2 linked regions of the Homo sapiens genome follow. The protein of the gene in region 1 interacts with the protein of each later gene in a pairwise test. Each region holds a gene or a part of one and is shown in the gene's direction. Other genes may lie near its edges.

Region 1 (16,682 bases):
TCTTTTTTTTTTTAGGAGAAAATAATTTATCAACCATAACATATAATTTTGAAAGGTTAAAAACACATTCGTCTCAACACAAAAATTCAATCATGCTTAAGTTCCTTCCAACGTGTTCATCCAAGGTGAACCTTCATATGTTTACAAATTCTTTTTCTTTATGAATTTTTGTTGACTAAGAACAAATTTTTTTCATTTTCTGAACTTCAAAATTATGCATTTTTCTATATGCTATACATATGAAACTTACGCTTCCTATGTATTGTTTTTGTTTTACTACTTTATTTTTTTTAGGTTTTTTATTATTATACTTTAAGTTATAGGGTACATGTGCACAACATGCAGGTTTGTTACATATGTATACATGTGTTGTGTTGGTTTGCTGCACCCATTAACTCGTCATTTACATTAGGTATTTCTCCTAATGCTATCCCTCCCCCATCTCCCCACCCCACGTCAGGCCCCGGTGTGTAATGTTCCCTGCCCTATGTCCAAGTGTTCTCAGTGTTCAACTCCTACCTATGAGTGAGAACATGCGGTGTTTGGTTTTCTGTCCTTGTGATAGTTTGCTCAGAATGATGGTTTCCAGTTTCATCCATGTCGCTACAAAGAACATGAACTCATCCTTTTTCATGGCTGCGTAGTATTCCATGGTGTATATGTGCCACATTTTCTTAATCCAGTCTATCACTGATGGACATTTGGGTTGGTTCCAAGTCTTTGCTATTGTGAATAGTGCTGCAATAAACATACATGTGCATGTGTCTTTATAGTAGCATGATTTATAATCCTTTGGGTATATGCCCAGTAATGGGATGGCTGGGTCAAATGGTATTTCTAGTTCTAGATCTTTGAGGAATCGCCCCACTGTCTTCCACAATGGCTGAACTATTTACACTCCCACGAACAGTGTAAAAGCATTCCTATTTCTCCATATCCTCTCCAGCACCTGTTGTTTCCTGACTTTTTAATGATCACCATTCTAACTGGTGTGAGGTGGTATCTCATTGTGGTTTTGATTTGCATTTCTCTGATGACCAGTGATGATGAGCATTGTTTCATGTGTCTGTTGGCTGCATAAATCTCTTCTTTGGAAAAGTGTCTGTTCATATCCTTTGTCCACTTTTTGATGGGGTTGTTTGACTTTTTTCTTGTAAATTTGTTTAAGTTCTTTGTAGATTCTGGATATTAGCCCTTTGTCAGATGAGTAGATTCCAAAAATTTTCTCCCAGTCTGTAGGTTGCCTGTTCATTCTGATGGTAGTTTCTTTTGCTGTGCAGAAGCTCTTTAGTTTCATTAGATCCCATTTGTCTATTTTAGCTTTTGTTGCCATTGCTTTTGGTGTTTTAGTCATGAAGTCCTTGCCCATGCCTATGTCCTGAATGATATTGCCTAGGTTTTCTTCTAGGATTTTTATAATTTTAGGTCTAACATTTAAGTCTTTAATCCATCTTGAATTAATTTTTGTATAAGGTGTAAGGAAGGGATCAAGTTTCAGCTTTCTACATATGGCTAGCCAGTTTTCCCAGTAGCATTTATTAAATAGGGAATCCTTTCCCGATTTCTTGTTTTTGTCAGGTTTGTCAAAGATCAGATGGTTGTAGATGTGTGGTGTTATTTCTGAGGCCTCTGTTCTGTTCCATTGGTCTATACATTTCTGAAGACAGCTGAATCCCAAAAGTGGAAAAATTGAGGCCCTTATTTCTCTTCCCAAGTCTGCTCATCCTCTAGCATTCCTACCTCAGTTAACAGTAGATTCTATGGGAATGGGACAGTGTTTCTCAAATGCAGACCTTCTTTTCCAGCCCCAAGGCTATGGACCCAGGTTGGGCTTTCCTCATCGGAAGAGGATACTTACTGTTTTCTCCCTTTACTAAGGACAGCATCTCTACTCCACTTCTTTTGGGAAATAGTCCTTAGTCCCTCACCCCACATGTATGTGGTTCTACTAGGTCTGTTAATCACAATGCCTGCCCCCTGGCACAGGGGTTGGCATGACACCTTTATTGGCTGTGAACTTCCTCAGGAACCAGAAACTCCGATTGAACTGGCCTAGGCAAAAAGTTGAATTTATTGGATCACAATATCAAACAATGTGAAGAGCAGGAGTGCAGCTGGCTGGACTTGAAGACCTGCTATCCCATTTCACTTGCCTCTGTCTTTCTCATCAGGTTAGTTTTCAAAGGAGCTTTCTCCAAAACCTTAGAAACATGGCTCCCAGTAGCTCCAAGCTCACATTTTACATTTTCATCAAAGAGGCTCTGCTGCTTTTCCCTTACTGCCAATTTGAACAATTCTTCCCTAGGCCAGTTCAAGTGGGGTCTCTGGATCCTGGGGAAATTCATATCACCATAAAAAAGTAAGAGTGCTGCTATGCTTGGGAGATGACTAGAATCTGGCACTCAGTCTCTGCCAGGATGTCTTCTCTCCACTGTAGCCCATGTGACTCACTAGGTCACTCTTCATCTCACCTACTGCTTATCAGTGTCCTAAACATGCAGATACCTTGATCACTGAGAATTCCCAAGCATTATTTCTAAGATTCCCTCTACTAGTCTTCCTTAATTCTTCCAGTACAAGTTTGAAAACTCCCAGCAAAAGATTCTGAGTGTTTTGGGGCAAGTGCCCATCTTGGGTCATCAATGGTGGCCATGATATGACACACAGACATCACCACTGTATATCCCACAGCAAACAGCATTTCATTCAAAGTCCATAATTTGTCTCCAACATGCCTTTTAAGCTAATAACCCACATTTACATACAACCCACACTCCAGACACACTGGATTACTATTTCAAAAATATACCACACACCTTCACAGCTCCATGCTTTTCTCATTCTGTTTCCTCTGCTTCTCATTAACCTTTATCCTTATCCTCTCAAAATTATTGTCCTTAAAGACCTAGCTAAAAATTCACTCCCAATTGCCCTCCTCCTCTCAAAATCAGACTCTTTATCCTCACCAATCCCATATCCTATATTGTTACTTATCTTTGTCTTATCTCCCCCACAAAATTTTAAGCTCCTCAGGAACAGAGACCTCAATATATTCGTCTTTCTATCCTTTGGTACCAAACCCAGTGCCTTGAACTTAAGGCTCAGTAAGTGTTTGGCAAATAAATGATCCTTCAGAAATATTCACTACATGTCATCAACCATCACTAAATAATAATGGATGGGAGATAACTTTAGAACCTAATTTCTCTAATACACTAATAGTACCAGTACATATGCTTTTTTTCCCCCTGGGACAGGGTCTCGCTCTGTGTCCAGGCTAGAGCTCAGTGGCATGATCATGGCTTACTGGAGCCCTGGCTCAGGTGATCCTCCCACTTCAGCCTCACAAGTAGCTAGGACTGCAGGTGAGTGTCACCACACCCAGCTAATTTTTGTATTTTTTGTAGAGATGGGGTTTCACCATGTTAACCCAGGATGGTCTCAAACTCCTGGACTCAAGCGATCCATTCACCTGGGCCTCCCAAAGTGCTGGGATTACAGGTGTGAGCCACCACACCCAGCCCAAACTCACTGATGAATGAAGAAATCTCCATTCTTGATGGCAAAACCATCAAATATATTCAAGCAAAGTGTAAAATTTTGTGCTGCACCTGATTTTCTTCAATATACTAAAATGGCCAAAGATTTTTACCTACACTCATCACTGTCTTCAAGCTGGAAGGAAAAGACACAGAACAAGCAGCTTGGTTTTTTGCTCTTCACTCTCACACAATCCCAGCCTCAATCCTGTTTTCCCAAATCACAACACAGATTGATTTTTATTTTTATTTTAGATTCAGGGGGTACACGTGTAGGTTTCTTACATGGATATATTGCACGATGTTGAGGTTTAAGCTTCTATTGAACCCTTCAACCAAATAGTGAACATAGTACTCAACAGGTAGTTTTTCAACCCTTGATCCCCTTCGTCCCTCCCACCCCTTTTGGAGTCCCCAGTGTCTGTTGTTCCCATTTTTATGTCCACATGTACCCAATGTTTAGCTTCTACTTTTTTTTCCCCCCTATCATCCAGGCAGCAGCCTCAAACTCATGGACACAAGCAATCCTTCCACTTCAGTCTGCCAGGTAGCTGTAACTACAGACGCTCACCACCATGCCCAGCTATTTTTTTTTTATTTTTTGTAGAGACAGGGTCTCATTATGTTGCCCAGGCTGTTCACAAACTCCTAGCCTCAAGCTATCCTCCCAGATTGGCCTCCCAAAGCACTGGGATTACAGGTATGAGCCACTGCACCCAGCCTAGCTCCCACTTATAAATAACATGCAGTATTTGGTTTTCTGTTTTGGATTAATTCACTTAAGACAACAGCTTCCAGCAGCAACCATGTTACTACAAAGGACATGATTTCATTCTTTTTTATAGCTGTGTAGTATTCCATGAGCAACACAGTTTTAGACAGCATATCAATACAACAGACTCAATGTTCACAGCATGGCACACATAGGAAGTAGAAGCAAGTATTCATCAATTTTACAACACATTTGGCAAAACCAGTGCTCTGGGATAAACTCTACACACCTTCAGGTCTAGTATTCCATTCCAATGTAACTGACCATGTTTGAGTCTACTTTGAATTGCTGGCAGAATGAGCTCTGAGTGTCAACTGGCTAAAGGAACCTGGATCTTGGTGTGGATTTCACAGCTGGTCCTACTGGAGGTATGGAATAGCAATGTAGCTAGCTACAGGCTACAGATGTCATAAAAAGCCACTGTTGCTTCTATATAATCTGTTGAACTTGATGCTCTAGAGGCAAATATACAGAAGACATGCAGAAGTGGTTTTCCAAGTCAATGCACTATATTTGATTGATAATAATTCTGAAGCAGACTCCTGTGACCTGGTTTGGGATGGCTCCAAACATAGCCAAAGGAATTTTCACTAGGTATATACAACTAAAAAGTCTCCTACTTTGCAATATCAGGAAGAAGATAACAAACATTTACCAAGGATTAATTACTCACCAGGTGCTTTCTGGCACATCTTATCTCATTTAATCCTCACAACAACTTAGTCGACTTTTTATAGTCAAGTAGCTAATAAATGGAAGAGCTAGGATTAAACCTGTGTCTAGCTATCTGATCCTCAAATCCACATCCTTTCCACTAAACCACACCATATCCTGTCTACTTTGTTCTGAGAAATGTGCTTTAAAATTTCAAGGAATTAAATGCAACATGGTCTCCTGGATTGGATCATAGGACAGAAAACAGACATTAATGAAAAAAAAAACTGGTGAAATCCAAATAAAGTCTAGAGGTTAGTTAATAGAAATGCGCCAATGTTAATTTGTTTAGATAAATATAGCATTATCATGTAAGATGTTAAAATTAAAGGGAACTAGGTGAAAGGTAAGTGGAAACTCTACTATTTTGGTAACTTTTCTGTAAATGAAAAGCATTCCAAATAAAAAATATATTTTTAAAAAAATTTGGCCAGGTGTGGTGGCTCATGCCTCTAATCCCAGCACTCTGGGAGACTGAGGTGGGCGGATCACTTGAGGTCAGGAATTTAAGACCAGCCTGGCCAACATGGTGAAACCCCATCTCTACTAAAAATACAAAAATTAGCTGGGTGTGGTTGGCAGGTGCCTGTAATCCCAGCTACTCGGGAGGCTGATGCAGGAGAATCACTTGAAACCAGGAGGGGCAGGTTGCAGTGAGCTGAGATCATGCCACTGCACTTCAGCCTGGGCATCAGAGAGAGACCCTGTCTCAAACAAAAACAAACAAGCAAACAAAAATTCAAGGAAGTTCTGAATCTCAGTTATTGTCCTGAAGCTTGGTACCTAACTGGATGTTTCCAGTGGAGTAGAAACACATGGTCTTGGCCGGGCGCGGTGGCTCACGCCTGTAATCCCAGCACTTTGGGAGATCGAGGCGGGCGGATCACGAGGTCAGGAGATCGAGACCATCCTGGCTAACACGATGAAACCCCATCTCTACTAAAAATATAAAAAATTAGTCGGGCATGGTGGCACGCGCCTGTAGTGCCAGCTACTCAGGAGACTGAGGCAGGAGAATCGCTTGAACCCGGGAGGCAGAGGTTGCAGTGAGCCAAGATCACGCCACTGCACTCCAGCCCGGGCAACAGAGTGAGACTCCATCTCAAAAAATAAATAAATAAATAAATAAATAAATAAGCAAATAAATAATATGGCCTTTTCTGTTGTTATAAATTTTAAATCTACCAGCGATGTCAACACATTAGGGTAATGCAAAAACAAGTTAAATCCTACATCAAATGACATCTTGATTGACCAGCAATAAAATAAAGCCTGTCTACAAAAAAAAAGAAAATCTCACCAAGTTTATCATGACGGCAGGTGACCTAGACAGCTGCTTTGTAATATGCTGAAGTAGGCAGCTATGAGTAGCTGGGAAGCATACACAATACAAGGCCACCCTGAAGCAAAGGTTAGGATGATGTCATTAAAATGTTGAATTTTGAGAGGCCGAGGCGGACGGATCACGAGGTCAGGAGATCGAGACCATCCTGGCTAACGTGGTGAAACCCCGTCTCTACTAAAAAATACAAAAAAAAAAAAAAAAAAAAAATTAGCTGGGCGTGGTGGCGGGCGCCTGTAGTCCCAGCTACTCGGGAGGCTGAGGCAGGAGAATGGCGTGAACCCAGGAGGCGGAGCTTGCAGTGAGCCGAGATCACACCACTGCACTCCAGCCTGGGCGACAGAGCGAGACTCCATCTCGGGGGGAAAAAAAGTTGAATTTTGAGAAAGAGCAGCAGCAGGCAAACCCAACTGACCTACAGTAATCAAAGAAGCAGAAATGGATCATCCCTTTTGGAATTAAGATCTTGTGCAAATTACAAAGGAAAGAGACACAACTGCAAACAACAAAAGACTCTACCCCCACTTCAGCATCAAACCAGAGGGCAATCTGTCTATGCTGTGGAAAAGGGCTTCTGATCCTGCACTGATCTGGATGACACCCGCACATTCAGTGTTTCTAGCCTATCATCGTTAAAAAAGAAATACTCATATACTTACATTAAAAAGTTCATGTAGAAAACTTAAATTTCCATATTTAAAGCTTAGATCTCTTCCACACGACTCATCCAGGATAAACTTATGGTTTAATATTCTACATGTTTAATTATACCATGTTCAACTCAGTTGGGTTGCCAGCCCTCCACGTGGCTTAAGGTTAAGTACATTTTTTGAAGGCTTCTTGTTTTTGTCTTCTCAGTGTGCTATTTATGCTGCTAATTATAAGGTTTTCAAGCATTTTTCCCTCTTTGGAATTTTAATTTACTGTAAATGCTTGCCCCTTAGAACATTTCCTAGTGTCATTTTATTTTTGACCGTTTTGAATACAAAATCCTTGATAAAGACATCCAAAAAGAGGGAGAATGGGGAACAGGGACATACTGGGGGGCTTCTGAATTGTCCTCTGAAGTTTTGTCATCTAGATGCTGAGGGTGGTCTCTTTGTTAAAAATTTAACCATCCAGACCTTAAGGCCACACAATTAATATTCCCTCTGGAATTGTAGGGCCTCTGTTTGAAAGAGTTGTCCAGTTTTCAGGCCACATTAGGTAATTTCCCGCCCAGGAGCGTGGCTTGGAAAGAATGTCGGTGTTTTCCTTCAGGTATAGGTGCCTGGGGGTCAGGAGGGGAGGGAAAGGCGAGGGGTGGAGTGGGAGGCGGGTGATCGACAGGGATAGAAACTGTGTCTCCTCCTCCCTCTGAATGCGAAATAGCCAATGAGGTGGCTAGGCCGGGCCGGCCCGGCCGCCACTGCCATATAGTATGCAGCAACCGGAGGAGTCACGTTGGGGGAACGGCAGAAAGCAGCTATCCGTTTACACTACTTTGCTCTAACAGCTATCTTAATGGTGACTGCGTGGCCGGGGGGAAACCTGATCGGCCAGATACAGCCGAAACCAGGAGGGAGGGAGTGGGCTTTCCGGAGGGGGAGAGGAGGGAGGGAGACGAAGGAGGAGGAGTAAGAGAGGAGGAAAGAAAGAGGAAAAGAGTGCGAGGGAGTGAGGGAGGGAGGAAAATAAACAACAAAAAATGTCCTCTTCCTCCCCCACCGGGCAGATCGCAAGTGCGGCGGACATCAAGCAAGAGAATGGGATGGAAAGCGCCTCGGAAGGGCAGGAGGCGCACCGAGAAGTGGCGGGGGGCGCGGCGGTAGGGCTGAGCCCCCCGGCTCCAGCCCCTTTTCCCCTGGAGCCGGGGGACGCCGCGACCGCTGCCGCCAGGGTGAGCGGAGAGGAAGGGGCAGTGGCGGCGGCGGCGGCCGGAGCGGCGGCGGATCAGGTACAACTCCACTCGGAACTTCTGGGCAGGCACCACCACGCCGCCGCCGCCGCCGCGCAGACCCCGCTGGCCTTCTCGCCCGACCACGTCGCCTGCGTGTGCGAGGCACTGCAGCAGGGGGGCAACCTGGACCGCCTGGCCCGGTTCCTGTGGTCCCTGCCCCAGAGCGACCTGCTACGTGGCAACGAGAGCCTGCTGAAGGCGCGGGCGCTCGTGGCCTTCCACCAGGGCATCTACCCCGAGCTCTACAGCATCCTCGAGAGCCACAGCTTCGAGTCGGCCAACCACCCGCTGCTGCAGCAGCTCTGGTACAAGGCGCGCTACACCGAGGCCGAGCGAGCCCGCGGCCGGCCGCTGGGAGCCGTAGACAAGTACCGGCTGCGCAGGAAATTCCCCCTGCCCCGCACCATCTGGGACGGCGAGGAGACGGTGTATTGTTTCAAGGAGAAGTCGCGCAACGCGCTCAAGGAGCTCTACAAGCAGAATCGCTACCCTTCGCCCGCCGAGAAGCGGCACCTGGCCAAGATCACCGGCCTCTCCCTCACCCAGGTCAGCAACTGGTTCAAGAACCGCCGGCAGCGCGACAGGAACCCCTCCGAGACCCAGTCCAAAAGGTGAGCGCCAACTTTCCTCCTCCTCCCCCTTCCTCTCCCCCACCCCCTTCCCGGCTTTCTTTTCCTCCAAGTGCTCGCAAACATGGCGCTTACCTTCCCCACCAGCCTGGTCCGGCTGCCCACCTCTCCCCGCCCCCTACCTCGCTCCCCGGCCGGCAGAGGTAGGGGGCGGCGGAGGCGGGGGGCGGGGGAACCTCCCTCCTTACCCTCCCCCTCTCCCCCCAGAAGTTTCTGGTCGCCCGCCTAGGTCTCAGTCCCCGCCCCCACCTCGGCTGGTCACTGCTGCCCAGCTTCCCACCCCCATCCCGCTGGCTTTGAAGTTGCCACCCTCTCCCCGTTTCTGGAGGGGCTAACGAAGCAAATGTGGACACCGGCACCGTAGCTCTCCCTGCCGCCCGAGGCCCGCAGAGACTGCCGGCGCCGGCCGGGGTCTGCACCTCCGCGAGGTCACACCGGGCCTGGCGCGCGCGCACGCTCCCGGATCCCCAGGGTTCAGCCGCCCCCCGGGCCTGCGCTGGAGGTCGCGGTGGCTGCTCTGGTGAAGGGAAGAGAGTGTTGTGGGACTGGCGGCGCAGAAGGGGTCTCGGAACGTCGAGGTTTCATATGACAGAGTTAATCATTCACCCTGCCCCTATGGTTCCCTTAGCGGCCGCGGCAACGTGGGGTGCTGGTGCAGCTCGGCTCTGTCATGTTTTGAAACCTGATTCTGAACTCCTTAGGATCGGGTTTCAGCGCAGCCGGGGTAGCAGGGCTGAAGGGCTGCTTCCTCCCTCGGCCCCCGAACGCTGCTTGGCTCCCTCCTGGTACGGTAGTTATGGGTGGGGGGCAGGCCGGCTTACGGCGGGCGGCAGCAAAGGAGTGGGGGCGCTCCCACCCCACTGGGTTTGAGCTTTTTGCCTGGCAGACTGCTTTCCCCCTCTGGTAAAAAAAATACCGGATTTTCCACCTCTTTTGTGCGTCCTCCCGAGTCAGACACTTGGTGTGTGCGTCTGTGTGTTTTGTTGGACGAAACAAAGTAAGGAGAAGGTCGCCTAAAGACCTGGTGTCTCCAGCCCCGCGGGGATAGGAGAGAAAGAATCCAAAAGCAGCTCGAAGGTTCTTCTCGGGGAAGCAAACTGGGAGCCGGGGATCCAGCCCGCCTGCGCCAGGTGAAGGTGATCACCAGCGCATTCCAGAGCCGGTCTCAGCCCGCCCTTGCCGCTTCTGGGCCCCTGTGGGGGTCCGACGGCTCGGGCTCCGGCGTTCCTCGCCCAAGGCTGGGAGGGAGGCTTGGTGCCCTATCCGGCCCTCGCGGTAACCAAAACAAAAGGTGCACCGGGATGTGCGTGCGCCTTCCGCAGATATGCGGAGAGGTCCAGAGAAGGCGCTTTGGTTACGCCGAGCCACCTGCCCTGCGCCCACTAGAGGCCGCGGATCCCGCGCTCGGAAACCAACGGAATCCGCAGGGCCGGGGCAGAGGGTGGCAAGGGGGCACCGCGAGCAGGCCAGCTGCTCCGCCGCCTCCGCTCGCGAGCCGGGCACGCTCCCTGGGACTCCCCCACGCTCCACTGCTGGCTTCTTCGTCCCCCCCGCCCCACCCCATAAACTCCACACCCACCCCGCCGCCGGCCCAGTTGCCTGGTTTAGGCCCCTCTCCGGATCTACCTCCCACCCGCACCCCCGGTGAGTCACCCTCGCAGACGGCGACGGCGGCTCAGCCTCAGCTTGTAAATCAAAGCGCTTTCTGCGCTCCTGGCCCCGCAGCCCAAAGCCCGGGTAATCCCCTCCCCTCGGCATGAAAGCGAACCGACCGCGGGGCACTGCGGGGATGTCGGATCCTCTGCTGGGCCAAGTCCTGCTGCGCTTCCAAAACGCCTCTGTTCTGCTCTCGTTTGCTCTCCCTCCCAGCCTCAGACCAAATGGGAAACCCCATCACTACCCACCCCCCAACCCCGATTTGGTATTTCTCCCAAGTCAGAGAGCTGAGGAACAGGGTCCTGCCTGGAACAGAGGGACCAAGGACGTTGGGGAAGAGGTCTAATAGTTAGAAGGCCTCTGAGTGACACCCTTTCCCTCCCACCTCACCAGGGCACTGGATGGTGTTTGTTAAATAGGCCCCTTTGGCTTCCTTTGGATTCAAAGGCGACTGCACATAACTGTTCTTGGGTTGAAAGTGCCTTTTCCTACAACAAGGACAGCCACTTTGTTGAATGAGAGAGTTGTCAGTCTGGTGGAGTAGAAGTTTGGGAGCAGGTGAGAAAACGATCTCTTGTTAACTAACTGACCAAAAAAGAAAAGCTGAGCACTTCCTACCTCCTGCTCCTTTGGCAGCTTCATTTACCTCCAAGATAACACTAATCTGAATTGGTTTGAGGGGAGGGGAAGGAGTTCCTAAACAGGAAAGACCGACCACCTCATTTAAGGTGTTTTTTTCTATGGTGTCAGTAGCAGCATATGTAACAGTAAGGAATAGCACTTCTACACTGTAAAATCAAATATGTTCTTCTCCTGTAATGCTGAATTTACATCTTGCAGATGTCTGGACTTTCCCTGAATTTATTGTTATTTTAAATGATTGGGATCTGAGAGTTTATCTTCCCAGATTCTCTGGCTGGTCGGAATCTGCTGAAAGGCCTCTTAGTTTAAATAGGACTAGCAGATATCCTGCTGTGCTTTCCTTAAATACTGCCTTTAATGGATTTAGAAGCTGGTTTTCCAAACAAGTGGCACTGTGTAGAATGTCATCCCCCTGACCTTCTGAACATTTTGATTTCCCCCTCCATACAGTGAGTCAGATGGCAACCCCAGCACTGAAGATGAATCCAGCAAGGGACATGAGGATTTATCTCCTCACCCACTCTCCAGTTCATCTGATGGCATCACCAACCTCAGCCTTTCCAGTCATATGGAGCCAGTATATATGCAACAAATTGGAAATGCTAAGATATCATTAAGCTCTTCTGGAGTTCTGTTGAATGGAAGCTTGGTACCTGCAAGTACTTCACCTGTCTTCCTTAATGGAAATTCTTTTATTCAGGGACCCAGTGGAGTTATCCTTAATGGATTAAATGTGGGAAATACACAGGCAGTGGCATTGAACCCACCAAAAATGTCATCAAACATTGTGAGCAATGGTATATCCATGACTGACATACTGGGGTCTACTTCCCAGGACGTGAAGGAATTCAAAGTCCTCCAGAGTTCTGCTAACTCAGCAACCACCACGTCCTACAGCCCCAGTGTCCCTGTCTCATTCCCAGGCCTGATACCCAGCACTGAGGTGAAAAGAGAAGGCATTCAAACAGTGGCTTCCCAAGATGGAGGGTCTGTAGTGACTTTTACTACACCAGTGCAAATTAACCAGTATGGCATTGTCCAGATCCCCAATTCCGGAGCAAACAGCCAGTTCCTTAATGGGAGCATTGGATTCTCTCCACTGCAGCTGCCCCCTGTGTCAGTGGCAGCTTCACAAGGTAACAATCTCATTTGGTACCTTAATGCACCAGCAAATGTGTTCATCAGCTGCTGTAAGTGACGCATTTGGTGATAGCTATAGATTGATGTTTCTGTTCAGGTACCTTATTAGCTGCCGAAGCTGTAGAGTAGCCTTGATGTGATTCTCCTCTTTCACAATACCCATGTCATATCCAGGTTGCTTTATTCCCTTGCATCATGAGGATGGGCTTTTATTTTACTAACAACTGAATGGAAAAATACAGTTCATAGCAAGTCCTGCCAGTTCTACAATTACAGAAATATGATAAGTCAATCAGTGCTTACAAAATAACTCACTGCTTGGCATTTTAATATTAAAAATTAATAAAATTGCTAAGAACACAAAATTAGTCTAGCAGTTGGTAAGAATGCATACACTTTACCTAAGCATTATTTATTTGACCAAAAAATGTTTTAGAAGAACAAGCTAAAAAGACCGGATCAATTATGTTTGAATCCTGTTTCCTCCTATAATGAAGACTAACAGACCTAAAAGAAAATCAGAGGAATATGCCATTGGATTTCTATCGCTCAGCATATATACTAACCCCCTAAATGTGTGGGTTTATTTGTGAAGATAATAGTAAGCCTTATTTTATATGTTTGTGGCTTTACTAACAGCAATCTTCCAGAGAAAGCACTTAAATGAAATTCAGGAAAACTGAGGCTGATATATTAGTTCTTCACTGACTTTAAGCAAGCCTGGATCCTCTATGTCATTTTCTCTTTAAAGAAATAGAAATGGTTAGAATTTGGCAGTGGAGTTTGCATAATCCCTTGAATTCAGGAAGGGTAGATCTTAATGCACGTTTGCCTTCTTGTAGACAAATCTGAAAATCCAGATTTTTACAAAACCAAAGTAGTAATTGTTGGCTTTAAAGGTCTGCTTCCTATAAGATGGTTTTACCACCCCCCCAAAAAAATCAATTTATGCACAACTCTCTTGTTACCACAACTATGGTCTATGTCAGCTTATTGAAGGAATTAATGGAAAAATTGTTCTAAATTTCATTCTGTACATTTGCATTTCTTTAGGCAAAATGGTACTAAAACAAGACATTCCTGCAGCATACTATTCAGTTCATCATTGTTCCAAGTTATGGAAAGAGTTAAGTTACTATCTAACATAGGGCAAAAATATGAAAACCACAGGGAAAGCCAAAGTGCTTAGTTTGATAATAATTTAATGTGGATCTAACCCCTTTTCTCTCATTTGGAAAATTTCCAAACAGGTCACATTTTAAAGGCAACAAATTTGAGCAGAAAGAATGAGTTATGTATGTTGGGGGAGGAGAAAAGTAGAAATACTTTTAATTGTGTAATCTAGAGGAGCACTGCCATAGAAAATTATTATGAACTAATAGCTGAGTTTTTAAATGGGACATTTAATAGGAATAAGAATAGCATTTTCAGTTAAAATAAGTAAGATCAAATCTTAGACTGTCTGGGTGAGTTGAACAGACAGTCTAAGTTTAACCAGATAGTTAAGTTTAATCCAGTAAGCAACATTTCTATGGTAGTTAGGTATTGCAGTTCTCAATAAAACATTTTGGGGATTCAGTTTTTTCTCACAAACAGATACTGAGCCATTCTTTAAAATGTCTTGACAAGATAGACTTATCTTTCTATAGTTGGGATTTATGTGGAAAAGTAGAATATCTACATCTTTTACTCACTTTACAGTCTGAGCAACTAAGATTATTATTATTATTATTATTATTATTTTTAGGCGGAGACTCATTTTGTCACCCAGGCTGGAGTACAGTGGCGCGATCTCGGCTCACTGCAGCCTCTGCCTCCCGTGTTCAAGTGATTATCCTGCCTCAGCCTCCCTAGTAGCTGGGACTACAGGCGTGCATCACCATGACCGGCTAATCTTCGTGTGTTTAACAGAGAGAGGGTTTTGCTATGTTGGCCAGGCTGGTCTTGAACTCCTGTGATCTGCTCACCTCAGCCTCCCAAAGTGCTGGGATTACAGGCATGAGCCACAGCGCCTGGCCTGATTTTTTTCTTATCATTACAAAGTAATGCTTTGTATCTATATGGTTTTTCAGTTGGATTTTTTTATCTTAAAATTGTTGTTCAATTTTTACTTCAGTTGTAGTTATGCTCAAAAATCAAATTTTAGATCAAATTCTCTTTTATATATGTTATAATTTCTACAAATTCAGAAGTATTTATATTCAGTAGCAGTTGGGGAAAATGTTGCATGTATTATGCTATTTATGGCTCTATAAAAAGATAACTAATCATTTTGTTCATGCATACATTGGCAAACAATTTCATAAACATACACACAATAAACTAAACATCTATTTGAGATGTTTTTTTGCCACAAATCAGCTGCCTACAAGAATTTTAAAGACGCCGGGCACAGTGGCTTACGCCTGTTAATCCCAGCACTTTAGGAGGCTAAGGCGGGTGGATCACCTGAGGTCAGGAGTTCCAGACCAGCCTAACATATTGAAACCCCGTCTCTACTAAAAAAAACAAAAATTAGGCTGGCATGGTGGCACATGCCTGTAATCCCAGCTACTTAGGAGGCTGAGGCAGGAGAATCGCTTGAACCCAGGAGGTGGAGGTTGCAGTGAGCCGAGATCACGCCATTGCACTCCAGCCTGGGCAACAAGAGCAAAACCCCTTATCTCAAAAATAAATAAATAAATAAATAAAAATAAGAGTTTTAAAGCATACTTAAGTTGAAGGCAGTGTTTTCAAATAAAAGCAGTTTTTTCATATGTGTGGTCTGAAACAGAAATGTAAGAGAATAACTGAAACATACTTAGAAATGTTTTTCTTAACACTGGTATTTCTGTGATTAAACTTTCTAGTTAAATGTTTTAAAAGGGTTCATATGCAGTGTTTTCTTTTTACTTGAAGACATTCCTTTGCATTAAAAATATTTGGAAGACATAAACAGCCCTGTGGCACTTATTTATCAATAGAGGTGATAATATAATCACAATATTCTAATACTTCAGGAAGGAAAATGTTTTAGGTGAATTAATTACCTTTAACATTGGGCTGCTCTCTCAAAAAAGTAGTTTACTGAGGCCAGATGTGGTGTCACGCCTGTAATTCTAACACTTTGGGAGGCTGAGGCAGGAGGATCACTTGAGCCCAGGAATTCCAGACCAGCCTGGGCAACATAGTGAGACCTCATCTCTACAAAAATTTTTAAAAAATTGGCCAGGCGCGGTGGCTCATGCCTGTAATCCCAGCACTTTGGGAGGCCGAGGCGGGTGGATCACAAGGTCAAGAGTTTGAGACCAGCCTGACCAACATGGTGAAACCCTGTCTCTACTAAAAATACAAAAATTAGCCAGGCATGGTGGTGCGTGCCTGTAATCCCAGCTACTCAGGAGGCTGAGTCAGGAGAATTGCTTGAACCCAGGAAGCGGAGTTTGCAGTGAGCCAAGATTGCACCACCGCACTCCAGCCTGGGTGACAGAGCGAGACTCTGTCTCAAAAAAAAATTTTTTTTTTAAATTAGCTGGGCATAGTAGTACGTACCTGTAGTCCCAGCTACTTGGGAGGCTGAAGTGGGAGGGATTGCTTGGGCCCAGGAGATCGAGGCTGCAGTGAGCCACGTTCACATAATCCCAGCACTTTGGGAGACCGAGGCTGGCAGATCACTTGAGCTCAGGAGTTCGAGAACAGCCTGGCCAACATGGTGAAACCCCATCTCTACTAAAACTACAAAAATTAGACAGGCATGGTGACATGCATCTGTAATCCCAGCTACTCAGAGGTTGAGGCAGGAGAATCACCTGGGAGGTAGAGGTTGCAGTGAGCAGAAATCGTGCCACTGCACTCCAGCCTGGGCAACAGAGCAAGACTGTCTCAAAAAAAAAAAAAAGAGTTGACTGAACATCTAATTCAAGATGAGGATAAACAGCCCACCTATCACAAAAGTTCCCCCAAATCTACCTTTCCTTCAGTGACCATATTTGAGGTCCTAGATTATCTAATTGCCATCATCTCATGCCTATGTAAGGAATCAGGAACAAAAGAGTGTTATTTGATGGTAGTGGGGGGTCTAATTCGTGTACATTGTCTAAGTGATCTGATTTGAACATCTCAGCTTTCTACTTAACATTTTTTTTTCTACTTCTGGTCTCTATAGACCATTATAGTAAGAGTCTCAAAAGATACAAACCTTTTAGAGAAGCATTAGCTCTGATCCTTTATGTTAATCTGTATTTTAAAAAGCACATTTCTTATTACCATTAATTGTTCCTATTACTACAACACTGAAAATTCAGAACTGGCACAACAAAAGGCAAAAAAG
Region 2 (15,874 bases), on another chromosome or scaffold:
CACCCCAGGAAGTAAGTTTCCTGGAGTCCATTGTGTTCATTTTAGCCACTTTATAAAAAGTAGTGTGGGCTCTAGAAGCTTCTTGTTTGATGTAAGTCACCGCTCATTTGAGTAGCCATTTGTTTTCTAACCAGCAACTAGTGTGAATGTTTAGAGATGTGCCTGCAGTTGTGCGGTTGCTGCTTTAAAACCTCTGACAGCAGTCCATGCCCCTTCAGCAGATGCAAACCATGCTCCAGGCTTCCGGGTCCTGAAGCATCCAGCCCTAACTTTCTTAATCTGGCCTCATCTTATAAAAGAAGTCTGTTGATTCAGTCCAATTCCTACCAAAATCCCAGATGGTGTTTAGTAGAAACTGACATGCAAAGTAACTAAAAGCCAAAACAAACTTGAAAAAGAACAAAGTTGGAGAACTTATACTACCTGGTTTCAAAACTCACCATAGGCCGGGCTCAGTGGCTCACGTCTGTAATCCCAACACTTTGGGAAGCTGAGGCAGGTGGATCACCTGAGGTCAGGAGTTCAAGACCAGCCTGGCCAACATAGTAAAACCCCATCTCTACTAAAAATACAAAAAATTAACTGGGCATAGTGGTGGGCACCTGTAATCCCTTGGGAGGCTGAGGCAGGAGAATCACTTGAACCTGAGAGGCGGAGATTGCAGTGAGCCTAGATTGCGCCTCTGCACTCCAGCCTGGGTGAGAAGAGCGAGATTCTGTTTTTTAAAAAAAATCACCATAAAGCTTCAGTAATAAGGATAGGATGGAATTGGTATAGGATAGATAAATCAGTGAAACAGAATAAAGTCCAGAAATAAACCTTCTCATTTATGGTCAGTTTATCTTTGGCAAATGTACCAAGTAATTCAGTGGGGGAAGAAATGGATACCCCTTCTCCATGATGTGTTTATATCATATTTCATACTTATATCAAAACATCTCATGTACCCCATAAATATATACACCTACTGTGTACCCACAAAAATTTTAAAAAATAATAAAATCAGTGGGAGAAAGGATAGACTTTTTATAGTGGTCCTGGAACAACTGTGTGTGTGTATATGTATATATACACACATATACATACATATATATGCACATATATATATATGAAAAGATGAATTTAAGTCCTTAATCCACACTGTATACAAAGATTAACTTAAATTGGATCATAGACCTAAATACAAGAATACTGTGAAATTTCTAGAAGAAAACACAAGAGCAGTTCTTTGTGACCTTGAATTAGGCAACAAAAGCAAAATGCATCAAAGAAAAAAATCAACAACCTACAATCTTTTGCTCTTCAAAAGACACCATTAAGAAAAAGACAAGCCACAAACTGGGAGATAATATTCACAAATCATGTATCTGATCAAGGACTTGTGTCCAAGATATATAAAGAACTCTTATAACAGTAATAAGAGGCCAAACCTAATTTTTTAAAAAGATTTGACTAGGGTTTGATGGGAAAAAGATTTGAGTAGATATTTCATCAAAGAAGATATGTGAATGGCTAAAAAGCACATGAAAAATGCCCAACACCATTAGTCATTGGAGAAATGCTACTTAAAACCACAGTGAGATACAACCACATACTTCGTAGAGTGGCTGTAATCAAGAAGACTGAAATGACCAAGTGCTGGAGAATCGAGAACTCTCGTGCATTACCAGTCAGAATGTAAAATGGCACAGCCACTTAGGAAAACAGTTTGGCCATTTCTTTTAAAAGGTAAACATATGCTTACCACACAACTCTGTAATTCTACTCTTAGGGATTTACCCAAGAGAAATGAAAATATATATCCATACAAAGACTTGTATGTGAATGCTTATATTGCATTATCCATAATAGCCCAATATTGGATGTTGTACATCTATGCCATTGTGCATTGTTGTTTAATGGGTACATAGTTCCAATTTTACAAGAAGAAAAATGTTCTAAAGATGAATGATGGTGATGAGTACCCAATAATGTGGATGTAGTTAATGCCACTGAACTGTACACTTTAAAATGGTTAAGAGGGTAAATTTTATGTTGTATATATACCACAATTTTTTAAATAAATAATTTTTATTTTTTATTTTATTTACTGTTTTCTAGAGACAGGGTCTTGCCGTGTTGCGCAGGCTGGAGTGCAGTGGTGAGATTGTAGTTTACTGCAGCCTCAAACTCCTAGGTTCAAGCAATCCCCCCGCCTCAGCCTCCCAAGTAGCTGGAACTATAGGCATGCGCCACCACACCTGGAATTTTTTTTTTTCCAAGATGGAGTCTTGCTCTGTCACCCAGAGCTGGAGTGCAGTGGCACAGTCTTGGCTCGCTGCTACCTCCGCCTCCCGAGTTCAAGCAGTTCTCCTGCCTCAGCCTCCCTAGTAGCTGGGATTACAGGCACACACCACCACGCCTGGCTAATTTTTGTATTTTTAGTAGAGACAGAATTTCACCATGTTGGCCAGGTTGGTCTCGAGCTCCTGACCTCCTGATCCTCCCGTCTCAGCCTCCCAAAGTGCTGGGATTACAGGTGTGAGCCACTGTGCCCAGCCAATGTTTTAATTTTTTTGTAGAGACAACATCTCACTATGTTGACCAGACTACTAGAGTGGCCATAATCAAGAAGACTGAAACTACCAAGTGCTGGAGAATCTAGAACTCTCGTGAATTCCTAGTAAGAATGCAAATGGCACAGCCACTTTGGAAAACAGTTTGGCCATTTCTTTAAAAAGTGAAACACTTAAATGACCAAACTCCGGGGCTCAAGTGATCCTCCCACCTCAGCCTCCCAAAGCATTGGAATTACAGAAAAATCTGAGGCCACCACACCTGGCCTCAAATTTTTTAAAAACATAATTATTAAGGACCAGGATCTGGGTAGTGGGCACTATCTCACTTATTTCTCACCATAGCCCTTTGAAAAGGACACCGTTTATTTTCTTCATCTATCCAGGAAATTGAGGTTCAGAGAAATTTGGTAACCAAAGTCACAGGTTCCATCCCAGCCTGTCAGACCTCAAAGACCCCACCTGGCCATGGTACCCTCCTCCTGCATGTTCCTCTCCGACTGTAAGAAACCTAACCTGGCTCTTGGGTCTGGGCCGCCAACATGCCATCCGGACAGAGGAAGATCCAGAGACTTAGGGGTCACGTGAGCCATAGCCACGGCCGCATCAGCAAGCACTTGGAAGCACCCAGGAGGCCGTGGTGATGCTGGTGGTAGGCGTCACCAGAGGATTAGTGTCAACAAGTCTCACCTGGGTTGCTTTGGGAACGCTGGTGTGAGGCATTACCACTAGGAACCAGAGCTTCTGCCCAGCTGTCACCCTTGAAGCCACATGGAGGGAGGTTCATGAAATGCTAACAACTGCTTTAAAGAGAAAAAAAGACAAGAACCCTAACCTGTACCCCTGTTCCTCCTTCCCACAGGCACAACAGGGTTCTATCAAGGAGGAAATGGACTGGGCAACGCAGCCGGTTTCGGGAGTGTGCACCAGGTAGACATGGCTCCCTCCCGATTCTTTCCTCAGTTCTTTCTGGAAATATTCCCCTTACATCAGGGCACCCAGAGAGCCCACGACACACACAATCCCCATTGGGAACCTGCCTCTTAGTCCCTGGGTTTGGAGACTACAGGGGCTAGATTGTGCAAAAGGCTGCTGGAAGGACACAGTATACAGGCGGAGACGTAGGAATTGTTAGAAGATTCCTGAGATGTCATGGAGATCTACAAGTATGTTCCATCTTGACCTGGACTCAGGACACCCATTGACTGTTGAATCTGATATATATCAATACAAATGGGTGGGTTCTTTCACCAGACCATGGGCTTCTCAAGGGGGACCGTATATCTTGCTCACCTCTGCATCCCCAGTGGTGAGAGCCCAGCACACAGTGGGGGCTTTATAAATACTTGTTAAATAGAGCAAAGTCAACTCTATATAGGTAAATGTTGGCTAGTACTTTGATTCTCTTGGTGTCACTTACAAAGTGAATTAAGAGTTCGCATCTGCTCAAAGTGTGCAGTAACTCTGCTGTGTGTACACCTTCCCTGTACACCTAAAATTATTTCAAAACAAAAGGTTCACCTGCTTTCAGGCTACCATTTAAAACAGAACCACCCTGGGGTAGATGGGCTTTAGGAATATTTAACATATTTAGATCTGAGGAATACGCAATTTCTTTTCCAGTGAGAATCTAAATAATTTAAAACTTAGCAAATGTAAAAATTGTTTCATGTATTTTTGCATTATTTCTAATGTACTATGTACATAGATAAAATACTTATAAATAAAACAGTACTTTTTAAGATGTGGTTCTTAACCCTCCATTTCACCATTAAATCTGTGTTTTTCAAAAACACTGACCACCCCCGCAACCCCCACCCCCAGGAACTCTGACTCCCAGCTCTGGGGTGGGGCCCAGGAAGCAGAACGTTCCATGAGTTCCGTGCAGGGTTGAGAAGCACTGGTTTGGTGATAGTGCGGCAGGATATTTGAAACAATGACTGTTGGAGAATTGGGATCGCTGGTCTGCTTAAACAAAGCTTGATCAAAGGTGATTGGCAGCTATTGAATTGATCTCCATGACTCCCTCATAGAATATTCTGGACCCCTAATGCTGTGTAGGTGCTGCTGTATTTGCACCTCCTCCCCATGAACATAAAATGTCACCTAGTCTCCTGGGTTTGTGTGTCGTGTGGGTGTGTGTGCGGTCTTCTAGGTTTGTGTGTGTGTCGTGGGGGGGGGGTGCAGTGTGGTCTTAATTGTTAATGCATTTGTTTATTAATTTAACCAGTATTTGTTGAGTTACTGCATATACCAGGCACTGTTTCAGGTGCAGAGGATACAATAGTGACCAGGACAGGTGCCATCAGGGCCACGTCTATATCCCTTAGGGTGGCCTGTGGACCTCCAGGTGCCAGCATCTGCATGCCTGGGCCCAAGGGGCTTTTCTAGAACCAGTGCACGGGGCAGGCAGGAAGTGCCTGGGAATTAAAGCCCCCTGGGTGCAGCTCTCAAAGACCAACAAGTTGATGTATAAACCCCTCCACTCCCTTGACCCGTGGGAGAGGCAGTTCTGAGATGTGGATTTTAGACCATCTCAGCTTTTCCTCATAGGGCTCATCTCTGGTCACTACCACAGAAGCACCTATGCAGGCTGCTCTCCCGCATCTCTCTCACTTCCCCGATCCCCTGCTGGTGTCTCCTTCACCTTCCAAACAGCCTCCTTGCACTTGAATCCTTGCCCCGGGGTCTGCTTCTGGGAAACCAAAATGAAGACAGTTTCTGCCCACAGAGAGCTTTTATTCTAATGGTGAGACAGAGTGGCCAGGCTGACCAACGGCCCGAGCCCAGAAAGGCTTCCTCACATATGTCCTTGGTTTGTTTTTCTCTTCCCAGGACTATCCTTCCTACCCCGGCTTCCCCCAGAGCCAGTACCCCCAGTATTACGGCTCATCCTACAACCCTCCCTACGTCCCGGCCAGCAGCATCTGCCCTTCGCCCCTCTCCACGTCCACCTACGTCCTCCAGGAGGCATCTCACAACGTCCCCAACCAGAGTTCCGAGTCACTTGCTGGTAGGTGCAGTCACTGGTGGGGCCATTCATGGCTGTGGTCTGAGAGCTTCTATGAAGGAGGGACCCGCACATGGGTCCCAATTGTAACAAACAGGTTACCCAAGGGTCATTCATGGATGTGGCCTGAGAGCTTCTCTGAAGGAGGGACCTGGATATGGGTCCCAGTTGTCACAAACAGGCTCCCAAGGGCTAAATCCATCTCTCAGACATGTTTTGTTGGCCTGTTTGTGCATGTGTTTAATTGCATTTACGTTTAAAAGTCAGAAAATTTTATAAATACCTAAAAATTCTATTTTCTGGCTTCTTTTGAAAGAAGATCTGGCCATAGTAGCCACATTCCCAAGGAACACCACTTGGTTAAAACTAAGTGTGTCTGCTCTTTTTAGAAAGGACACACCCAATTCCACATCTAGCTAGCTTACCCCATGTTCATTACTGCCTGGCCCATGTAGGCCTTGGAGTTGATGAACCCTGGTAGTATTTATAATATTACCAGCTGGGCACGGTGGCTCACACCTGTAATCCCAGCACTTTTGGAGGCTGAGGCGGGTGGATCACCTGAGGTCAGGAGTTCGAGACCAGCCTGGCCAACATGATGAAACCCCATCTCTACTAAAAATACAGAAATTAGCCTGAGTCATGGCAGGCACCTGTAATCCCAGCTACTAGGGCGGCTGAGGTAGGAGAATCGCTTGAACCTGGGAGGCGGAGGTTGCAGTGAGCCGAGATCGCGCCATTGCGCTCCAGCCTGGGCAACAAGAGTGAAACTCCATCTCAAAAAATTAAATAAATAAATAAAATACCCATCTGTTTCGTGCTGAGCACATACCTGTGTGGTCTTCTCTAATCATTTACTTATATATTTATTCAACAAATATTTGGTAAGCTCCCACTGCATTCCAGGCCCTCCCTTTAGTTTGGGAAATAAAGTGCAGTGTAGAGTTAAGCTTTGCAGACAGGAATCAAATAATCATACAAATATCTCATTACAAACTGTGATAAGGAGAGGCATAATCCTCACAAAAACAGGTTTATATTATCCCCACCCTTTTTCTAGATAAGAACAATGAAGATGAGAGTGATAAGGAGCTTGCTAGTGATTGGTGGGGCTAGGATCCCAATCCCAGTTTGTTGGCCCCCATAACCAGCACTCCTGCTATGCACTGGCCATACACAGCCAGGAACTGTGTACACAGCCTGGCTGTGTACGGCCAGGAATATGTTATCTAAAATCCGTTTGAGAACAGAAGGGCAGAGGCTTTCAAATGTTGATTCTTTGTCTAAGAGGGGTTCAAGTATAGCGACTCAGGGTCCTCAAGAATTATACAATCCTTCAAAACATCCTTAAGCATGTTCATTTTTTTTTTCTTTCAACTTGTATTTTAGGTTTGGGGTACACATGCAGGTTTGTTACATGGGTAAATTGCATGTCGTGGAGGTTTAGTGTACAGATAATTTTGTCACCCAGATAATCAGCACAATACCCACTAGGTAGTTTTCCAGTCCTCACCTTCCTTCCATCCTCTACCCTCAAGTAGGTCCTTGGGTCTATTGTTCCCTTCTTTGTATCCATGTGTACTCAATGTTTAGCTCCCACTTATAAGTAAGAACATGTGGTATTTGGTTTTCTGTTCCTGTGTTAATTCACTTAGGATAATGGCCTCTAGCCCTATCCATGTTGGTTCAAAGGACATGATCTTATTTTTTATGGCTGCGTAGTATTCCATGGTGTATATATACCACATTTTCTTTATCCAGTTTGCCATTGATGGGCATCTAGGTTGATTCTTTGTCTTTGCTATTGTGAATAGTGCTGCAATGAACATACACATGCATGTGTCTTTATGGTAGAAAAATTTATATTCCTTTGGATATATACCCAGTAATGGGATTGCTGGTATATATCCAAATGGTAGTTTCATTTTAAGTTCCTTGAGAAATCTTCAGGCCGCTTTCCACAGTGGCTGAACTAATTTACATTCCCATGAACAATGTATAAGCATTCCCTTTTCTCTGTAACCTTGCCAGCATCTGTTATTTTTTGACTTTTTAATAATGGCCATTCTGATTGGTGTGAGATGGTATATCATTGTGGTTTTGATTTGCATTTCCCTAATGACCAGTGATATTATTTTTTCATATGCTTGTTGGCTGCATGTATGTCTTCTTTTGAGAAGTGTCTGTTCATGTCCTTTGCCCATTTTTTAATCGGGTTATCTTTAAGGATGTTTGTTTCTGATGGCACAATAGTTTTAGGAAACCCTTTTGATTAGCCAAGATTTTTTGGCTTCAAAAGACATAGAAAATCCAATTCAAACTAGTTTAAGAAAAAGCAAATGAACTTTTAGGCATATCTAACCTAGATGTACAGGGGTTTAGAGCTAGGTCCAGGTGTTCCAATGACAATGTTGAGACTTAGTTTCTCTCTTCCTTCTGGCTCTGAATTTTCCTGGGTTCGTTCCGTTCTCAGGCAAGCTCCTCCCCTATGGTGGCAAAGATGGCCACCAGCTACCCAGAGCTCAATCCTGTCTGCTAATCCATCCCAGCAAACATAGTTCCTCCTTCTTAGCCATTCCTGCAAAAGTCCCAAGTAAAGCTCCCATTGGCCCAGCTTAGGTCACATGCTCATCCCCAAACCAATCTCTGTGGTCAGTGGAATGGAATGCTGGGATGAAGCAGCAGACTTTGGGCTCATGCCTACGGCTGGAGCTAGAGTTGGGGTCAGCCTCACCTCAACCACCAGGGACTGAGAGTGAGGAAGAGGTGATCACCTCAAAAAACCTAGAGCATTGTAACTACAAGAAGACAGAAGAGACAATGGGTGAGCAAAAACAATAAATGTCCACAACCTTGATATGGATGCCACCTACACTATGAGCAACATGTGGCAGAGTCCATGTCCTGACCCCTCTGTGGTCACAGAACTTAGTATGTAACATCCCTATGCAACTAATGCACCAGCCTGTGGATTCATTCATTCATTCCCCAGACCTGCTATGCACATCTTCTCTTTTACAAGGTGGTTTTGGCTTATCAACATTAAATAACATGGCAGCAATACGTTAGAATGTCAGTAGATATCACTGAGTTTCGTTCCTTTGTCTTCTTTTCTGAAACCTACTGATGCTGTAGGGCTTTGCAGAAGCTAAGCTAGCACGATGGTGTGGAGACAGTCATCAACAAATATTAATTGGTTGATTGTTAGAAAAGGAACAATAGGGAAGACCCACCTGTTTTGTTCCTGGGGTTCTTGGTGTGGCTATTGATTTTAGCCCTTAAATTTTCCATCACTGGGAATGAGTGAGTTATCCTTGGTTTGATGACAAATGGAGACAATATGGCAAAGCATGTTAAATAAAGTCAACTTTTTAAAAGGTTTAGAGCTTGAGCATTGATTTTGGTCATTGTGATCTCATCCCAGAATATTTAATGATGCATAGTACCTATTTAATAACTTTCTTTGAAGAGTTTGAAGTTTAACAAAGTTTTTCTCTGTCATCATCTTGAATTATCTTTAGCCATCCTGATTTTCAGAATGTGGTTCTTCCGATCTCATTTCAACAAAGGAGATAAAAACAAAACATTGATGAGAAATTAGGGCAGAGAGGAACTATAAGCAGGAAACCATCGAGTAGATGCCACTATCCGTCTATAATTCAATGGTGAACTGAATGGCAAACGAAAAACTTACCTCCCCAGAATTTGAGTTTTGTGGGAAGGTTCTCTTCATTCCCATCAGGAGTGAATATAAAGGCTCATTGTGTCTTTGAAATTTTTCTGTCTTGTTTCCCTCTGTTCTTCCTTTATCCCTTGATCAAAGGTTCAACAGTAAGTGGTTGAGATGGTTTTTACTGTGTGTCTAACAAGCTGACATAAAATCTAATGACGTAAATAATGGTCAGCTGTAGCTGAGGTCTCCTGCCTCTTTTTCCTAGTGTTCACTGTAAAGGAATTTAAGCATATGTGTGTGCACATGTGCACGTGCGCGCGCGCGCGCACACACACACACACACACACACACACACACATTCATGCACTCTTTTTAAATTTCCCATAAAAACTCTACTTTTGAAATTATCCAGGATATCCTTGAGTGGTTGGTTCCAAACTCCAGAGGCTCTAGAGGTTTACTGACAGACAGATCACACTCACTGTGTGCACTGCCTGGATATAGTATTTTGGTGCTCTCACCACTCACATCCCCCATGCACCCCATCCTCGCCACAGGACACTCTGCATTGACATGCATTAATGTGTGTGTGAAGTGCCAACAATTTGCAGATGATTACAGGGCAATTTGCTGATATAGAGGGCAGAATCTGAACATCTCATGTTACTTAAGAGAAAAACCAAATCATTGGTTACTTAAGGATTTTTTTCTTTTTACATTTTTAAATATGATACAAATTATCTAAAAAGAAGTTGAAGGATTTTTTAACTTCTAAGATCAACTTCCTTTGCCAAGAGAAGAAGAATTTTTTTAATCTCTCAAGAAGAAATTGGGAAGGCTCTTCCGTGTAATTTGGCAACATCTAACAAAATTTAAAATGCATAGACCTTTTAACTCAACTATTCGACATCTAAGAATTTATCCGAAAGATAAACTTTGACCTAGGTACAAACACTTAAGTAAAAAGAATACTTATTTTTTTCACTGATTAAAAATTTATTAATACTATTATGCAAATAATTTTAGTGATAACCACAAGGGTTTTGTACTGTTAGTACATAAATACATACAAAAATGCATTTTGAAACTTCTTGTATCCCCTTTATCCTTTTCAATTTCTGTTTATGTTTGCTCTACAATATATATGATGGATCTGTGCAGTAGAAAATTTTTTGCTGATGAGTATGGTACAATCAGAAATGTTTGGAGACTGTATCAGTTTCTTCTTGCTGCTGTAACAAATTATTATGACCTTTGTGTCTTAAAACAACACAGTGATATTTTACAGTTCTGGAGGTAAGAAATGCAACATGGCTCTCACTGAACTAAAATTGAGGGGTCAGCAGGGTTATAGTATTGGAGGCTCCAGAGGAGAATCACTTCCTTGCCCTTCTACCTGCAGAGGCCACCTGCCTTCCTTGGCTCATGACCCTGCATCATTCCAGTTTCTACTTACATTGTCTCATCTCCTTCTCTAACTCCTGCCCCCGACCCCTTATAAGGACTGTTGTGATTCCACTGGGCCCACTCAGAGAATCCAGGATCATCTCCCCATCTCGAAGTCCTTAAGTCAGTCACATCAAGAATATTTATTTTTTTAAAAAAGAATATTTATTGCAGCAGCATCATAGCAAAAGGCTGGAAACAACCTGGATACCATGCCATTAACAGGAAACAGGTTAAATCAATCATGGTGCATCCACCAGTAGCATACTATACAGCTGTTAAAAAGAATAAGTTAGATATATTTGTGCTACTATGGGTTTCTCTTTGAGCTATTGTGATAGGTTAAAAAAAAAAAGCAGGAGGCAGAATTACATGGGTAATGTGAGCCTGAGTTTTTTAAAAGTTTAAGTGTAGCTTAATACCCATATTTACTCATATTCCATAAGGAATTTCTAGAAGGATGCAATAAGAACTGTTAATAGTCATTTTCTCTGGAGAGGAAAACAAGATCTGGAGTGAAAGGAAAAGACTGTATGTAACAGGCAATCTGTAGAACACTCCACCCAACAGCAGCAAATACACATTCTTTTCAAGTGCACATGGGACATTTACCAAGATAAATATTAATATCTTCTGGGCCATAAAACAAGTTTCAGTACCTTTAAAAGAATCAAGGCATACAAAGCATGTTCTCTGACAGCAGTGGAATTAAATTAGAAATAAATTTCAGAAAGATTTTTGGGAAGTTCCCAAATCTTCAGAATCTCAATAATATACATTTCAGTGACCCATGGGTCAAAGAAGAAATCAATGGGAAATTAAAAAGCACTTGGAACTGAATGAAAATGAAAACAAATATATCAAAATTTATGGAATGTCATTAAAGCAGTACTTAAAGGGAAACTTACAGCACGAAATACCTGAATTAGAAAAGAAGACACAATTACCACAGGTATCAGGTGAAGGAAGGGAGGGAGGGAAATGAGGGAGGGGGGAGGGAGGGAAATGAGGGAGGGAGGGAGGGAAATGAGGGAGGGAGGGAGTAAAGGGGAGTGGAGGGGAGGGAAGATTGGTCAAAGGATACAAAATTTCAGTTAATAGGAATAAGTTCAGAAGAACTATTGTACAATATGGTGACTATAGTTAATAAATAAGGTATTTGTATTAGTCTATCTTCATGCTACTGATAAAGACACACCTGAAACTGAGCAGTTTACAAAGGAAAGAGGTTTAATGGAGAACTCAGTTCCATGTGGCTGGGGAAGCCTCACAATCATGGCTGAAAAAAAGGAGAAGCAAGTCACATCTTACGTGGATGGCAGCAGGCAAAGAGAGAACTCGTGCAGGCGAACTGCCACTTTCTTAAAACCATCAGATCTTGCGAGACTCGTTCACTATCACAAGAACAGTGCAGGAAAGACCCTCCTTCTTAAAGAGACAAGGTCTTACTCTGTCACCCAGGCTGAAGTGCAGTGGTACGATCATAGTTCTCCGTAACCTCGAACTCCTGGGCTCAAGCAATCCTCCCTCAGCCTCTCAAGTAGTTGGGACTACAGGTGTGTGCCACCATGCGCAGCTAATTTTTAAATTTTTTGTAGAGATGGGGACTTGCTCCTCCTTGTCTTCGGCCATGATTGTGAGGCTTCCCCAGCCACATGGAACTGAGTTCTCCATTAATGCTCTTTCCTTTGTAAATTGTTCAGTCTCAGGTATGTCTTTATCATAATTCAGTCACCTCCCACTGGGTTCCTCTCATGACATGTGGGAATTGTGGGAGTTACAATTCAAGATGAGATTTGATGGGGACACAGAGCCAAACCCTATCAGTGTTATATACTTGAAACTTGCTGAGAGAGTAGATTTTAAGTGTTTTTAGTAAAAAAAAAATAAAAAATATGTGAATGTTAATTAGCTTGATTTAGCCATCCCCAATATATACATATATCAAAATATGTTGTACATCATAAATATACACAATTTTTATTTGTCCAGTTAACAAATCATCATCATCATCTACAGGGTTGCTGTGAAAATTGAAATAAAAAGGCCGGGCATGGTGGCTCATGCCTGTAATCCCAGCATTTTGGGAGGCACAGGCACGTGGAGCACCTGAGGTCAGGAGTTCAAGACCAGCCTGGCCAACATGGCGAAACCCCGTCTCTACTAAAAATACAAAAATTAGCCAGGCGTGGTGCCACACGCCTGTGATCCCAGCTACTCAGGAGGCTGAGGCAGGAGAATCACTTGAACCTGGGAGGCAGAGGTTGCAGCGAGCCAAGATTTTACCACTGCACTCCAGCCTGGGTGACAAAGCGAGACCTTGTCTCAAAAAAAAAAAAAAAGAAGAAAGAAAAAAAGAGAGAGAGAGAGAAAGAAAAAATGTGCATTGCCTATTATTATTATTTTGAGACAGAGTCTCGATCTGTCGCCCAGGCTGGAGTGCGATGGTGTGACCTTGGCTCACTGCAACCTCTGCCTCCCAGGTTCAAGTGATTCTCCTCCCTCAGCTTCCTGAGTAGTTGGGATTACAGGCGCCCACTACCATGCCCGGCTAATTTTTGTGTTTTTAGTAGAGACGGGGTTTTACCACGTTGGTCAGGCTGGTCTCAAACTCCTGACCTCAGGTGATCCACCTGCCTCAGCCTCGCAAAGTGCTGGGATTACAAGCGTGAGCCACTGTGCCCAGCCAACCCTGCCAATTATTAAGTAACATGCAAATATAAATAATGATTAATGAAAATATATTTAAGAACTCACTTTAACCCAGACAGTTAAATATAATAATTTTCATCCAAAGATATGATTATTTAACTTAATTTAAAATTTTTTAAAAATAAGAAAAGAAGAAGTAAAACTTCATGAAGTAAAGAGATAAAATGACCTGGTCACCTATGTAGAAAATCTGATGGAATCTATGAAAAAGCTACTAGATCTAAAAAGTAACTTTAGCAGTGTTGCAGGGTACTAGGTGAATATCTAAAAATCAACAAACAACAGGAAATAGAATATTTTAAATGCCATTTGAAATAGTATCAAAGATGTGAAATACTCAAGGTTAAATTTGGCAAAAGATATGCATGACTTTACACTAAAACCTATAAAACTGCTGAGAGAAGTTAAAGAAGGCATTAATAAATGGAGATATATACCTGGTTCGTGAATCAGAAGACTTAATATTGTTAAAATGCCAGCTCTTCCCAAATTGAGCTATAAGATTAATACAATCTCTATCAACATCTCAGGCTTTTTTTAAGAAACTGTCAAGCTGTTTCTGAACTTTAAATGGAAATGCAGAGGACCAAGAAGGGCCACAATGACTTTTGTAGAGAAGAACAAAGTTAGAGGGCTAAGACTACCTGATTTTAAAATCCATTTTAAAGCCACAGTACTTAAGACAATGCAGCACTGGCATAAAAATAGACAAATAAATCAATGGAACAGAATTGAGAGTTCAGAAATAGGTTGGGTGCCGTGGCTCGTGCTTGTAATCCCAGCACTTTGGGAGGCCGAAGAGGGAGGATCACTTGAGGCCAGAAGTCTGAGACCAGCCTGAGCAACATAGCAAGACCCTGTCTCTGCAAAAAAATAAAAATAACCCAGGCAGTGGGTTGTGCCTGCAGTCCCATCTGCTCAGGAAGGTGAGGTGGGAGAATTGCTTCAGCCAGGGGTTTGAGGATACAGTGAGCTATGATCATACCACTGTACTCCAGCCTGGATGACAGAGTAAGACCCTGTCTCCACAGTAAATAAATGAATTAACCCACATGTATATGGTCACCTGATTTTTGACAAAAGACAATTCAATGGAGAAAGGACAGTCTTTTCAACAAAAGATGCTGGAACAGCCGAGCACAGTGGCTCACGCCTGTAATCCCAGCATTTTGGGAGTCCAAGGCAGGTGGATCACCTGAGGTCAGGAGTTCAAGATCAGCCTGGCCAACATGATGAAACCCCGTCTCTACTAAATATACAAAAAAATAGCCAGGCTTGGTGGCGCACACCTGTAATCCCAGCTACTTGGGAGGCTGAGGCAGGAGAATCCCTTGAACCAGGGAGGTGGAGGTTGCAGTGAGCCAAGATCATGCCACCACACTGCAGCCTGGGTGACAGAGCAAGAGTCCATCTCAAAAAAAAAAAAAAAAATCGTGGAACAACTGATTATCTATACTTCATACCTCACATGACACACAAAAAAAATGCAAAATAGATCATAGACTTAAATATAAAACTGTAATCTTCTACAAGAAAACATAGGAGACAGTTTTGTGACTTTGATTTAGGCAAAGATTTCTCATATGTAACACCAAAAATATGATCCAAAAAGAAAAAAAGAATATAAACTGGACTTCATACAAATTTAAAACTGTTCAGAGAATGAAAAGAAATCCATGGTCCAGGAGAAAAATAATTGCAAGGCATATCTCGAATAAAGCATGTGTTTATATAGAATATAGAAGGAGTGTTCAAAATCCAATAATAAGAAAGCAAACAATCTGATAAAGAAATGGGCAGGGCCAGGTGCAGTGGCTCATGCCTGTAATCCCAGCACTTTGGGAGGCCAAGGCAGGCAGGTCACCTGAGGTCAGGAGTTTGAGATCAGCCTGGCTAACATGGTGAAACCCTGTGTCTACTAAAAAATACAAAATTAGCTGGGTGTGGTGGCATGTGCCTGTAATCCCAGCTACTCGGGAGGCTGAGTCAGGAGAATCGCTTGAACCCAGGAGGCGGAGGTTGCAGGGAGCCAGAATTGCGCCACTGCACTCCAGCCTGGGCGACAGAGTGAGACTTTGTCTCAAAAAAAAAGGCTGGCTCTGTGCAGTAGCTCACGCCTCTAATCCCAGCACTTTGGGAGGCCAAGGACGGCAGATTGCTTGAGCCCAAGACTTCAAGACCAGCGTGGGCAACATGGGGAAACCCTGTCTCTACAAAAAATACAAACATTAGACAGGTGTTGTGGTGCAGGCTCGTAGTCCCAGCTACTCAGGAGGCTGAGGCAGGAGGATCGTGTGAGCCCGGGACATCAACATTGCAGGGAGCTGTAATTGTGCCACTGCACTTCAGCCTGACAGAGTGAGACCCTGTCTCAAAAAATAAAGAAATAAAAATAAAGAAATGGGCAAAATATTTGAACAGATGATAGATGCCTCACCAAAGAAGATATAGGGATGGCCAAAAGCACATGATTAAGAT

Evidence for each region.
Region 2: the proteins of SIX4 (region 1) and EYA2 interact in a two-hybrid assay, tested with the Homo sapiens proteins (one study listed by BioGRID).

Annotation. Positions count from the first base shown.
Region 1 is NC_000014.9:60,715,447-60,732,128, reverse strand, and holds the start of SIX4 (homeobox protein SIX4), read left to right. Parts: upstream 1-7,777; 5' UTR 7,778-7,870; coding exon of another isoform or gene 7,871-7,873; 5' UTR 7,874-8,054; coding exon 8,055-8,917; intron 8,918-10,984; coding exon of another isoform or gene 10,985-11,006; exon of another isoform or gene 11,007-11,021; intron 11,022-11,683; coding exon 11,684-12,369; intron 12,370-16,682. UniProt on the Homo sapiens protein: Transcriptional regulator which can act as both a transcriptional repressor and activator by binding a DNA sequence on these target genes and is involved in processes like cell differentiation, cell migration and cell survival.
Region 2 is NC_000020.11:47,068,768-47,084,641, forward strand, and holds part of EYA2 (protein phosphatase EYA2), read left to right. Parts: intron 1-3,417; coding exon 3,418-3,485; intron 3,486-5,390; coding exon 5,391-5,568; intron 5,569-15,874. UniProt on the Homo sapiens protein: Functions both as protein phosphatase and as transcriptional coactivator for SIX1, and probably also for SIX2, SIX4 and SIX5.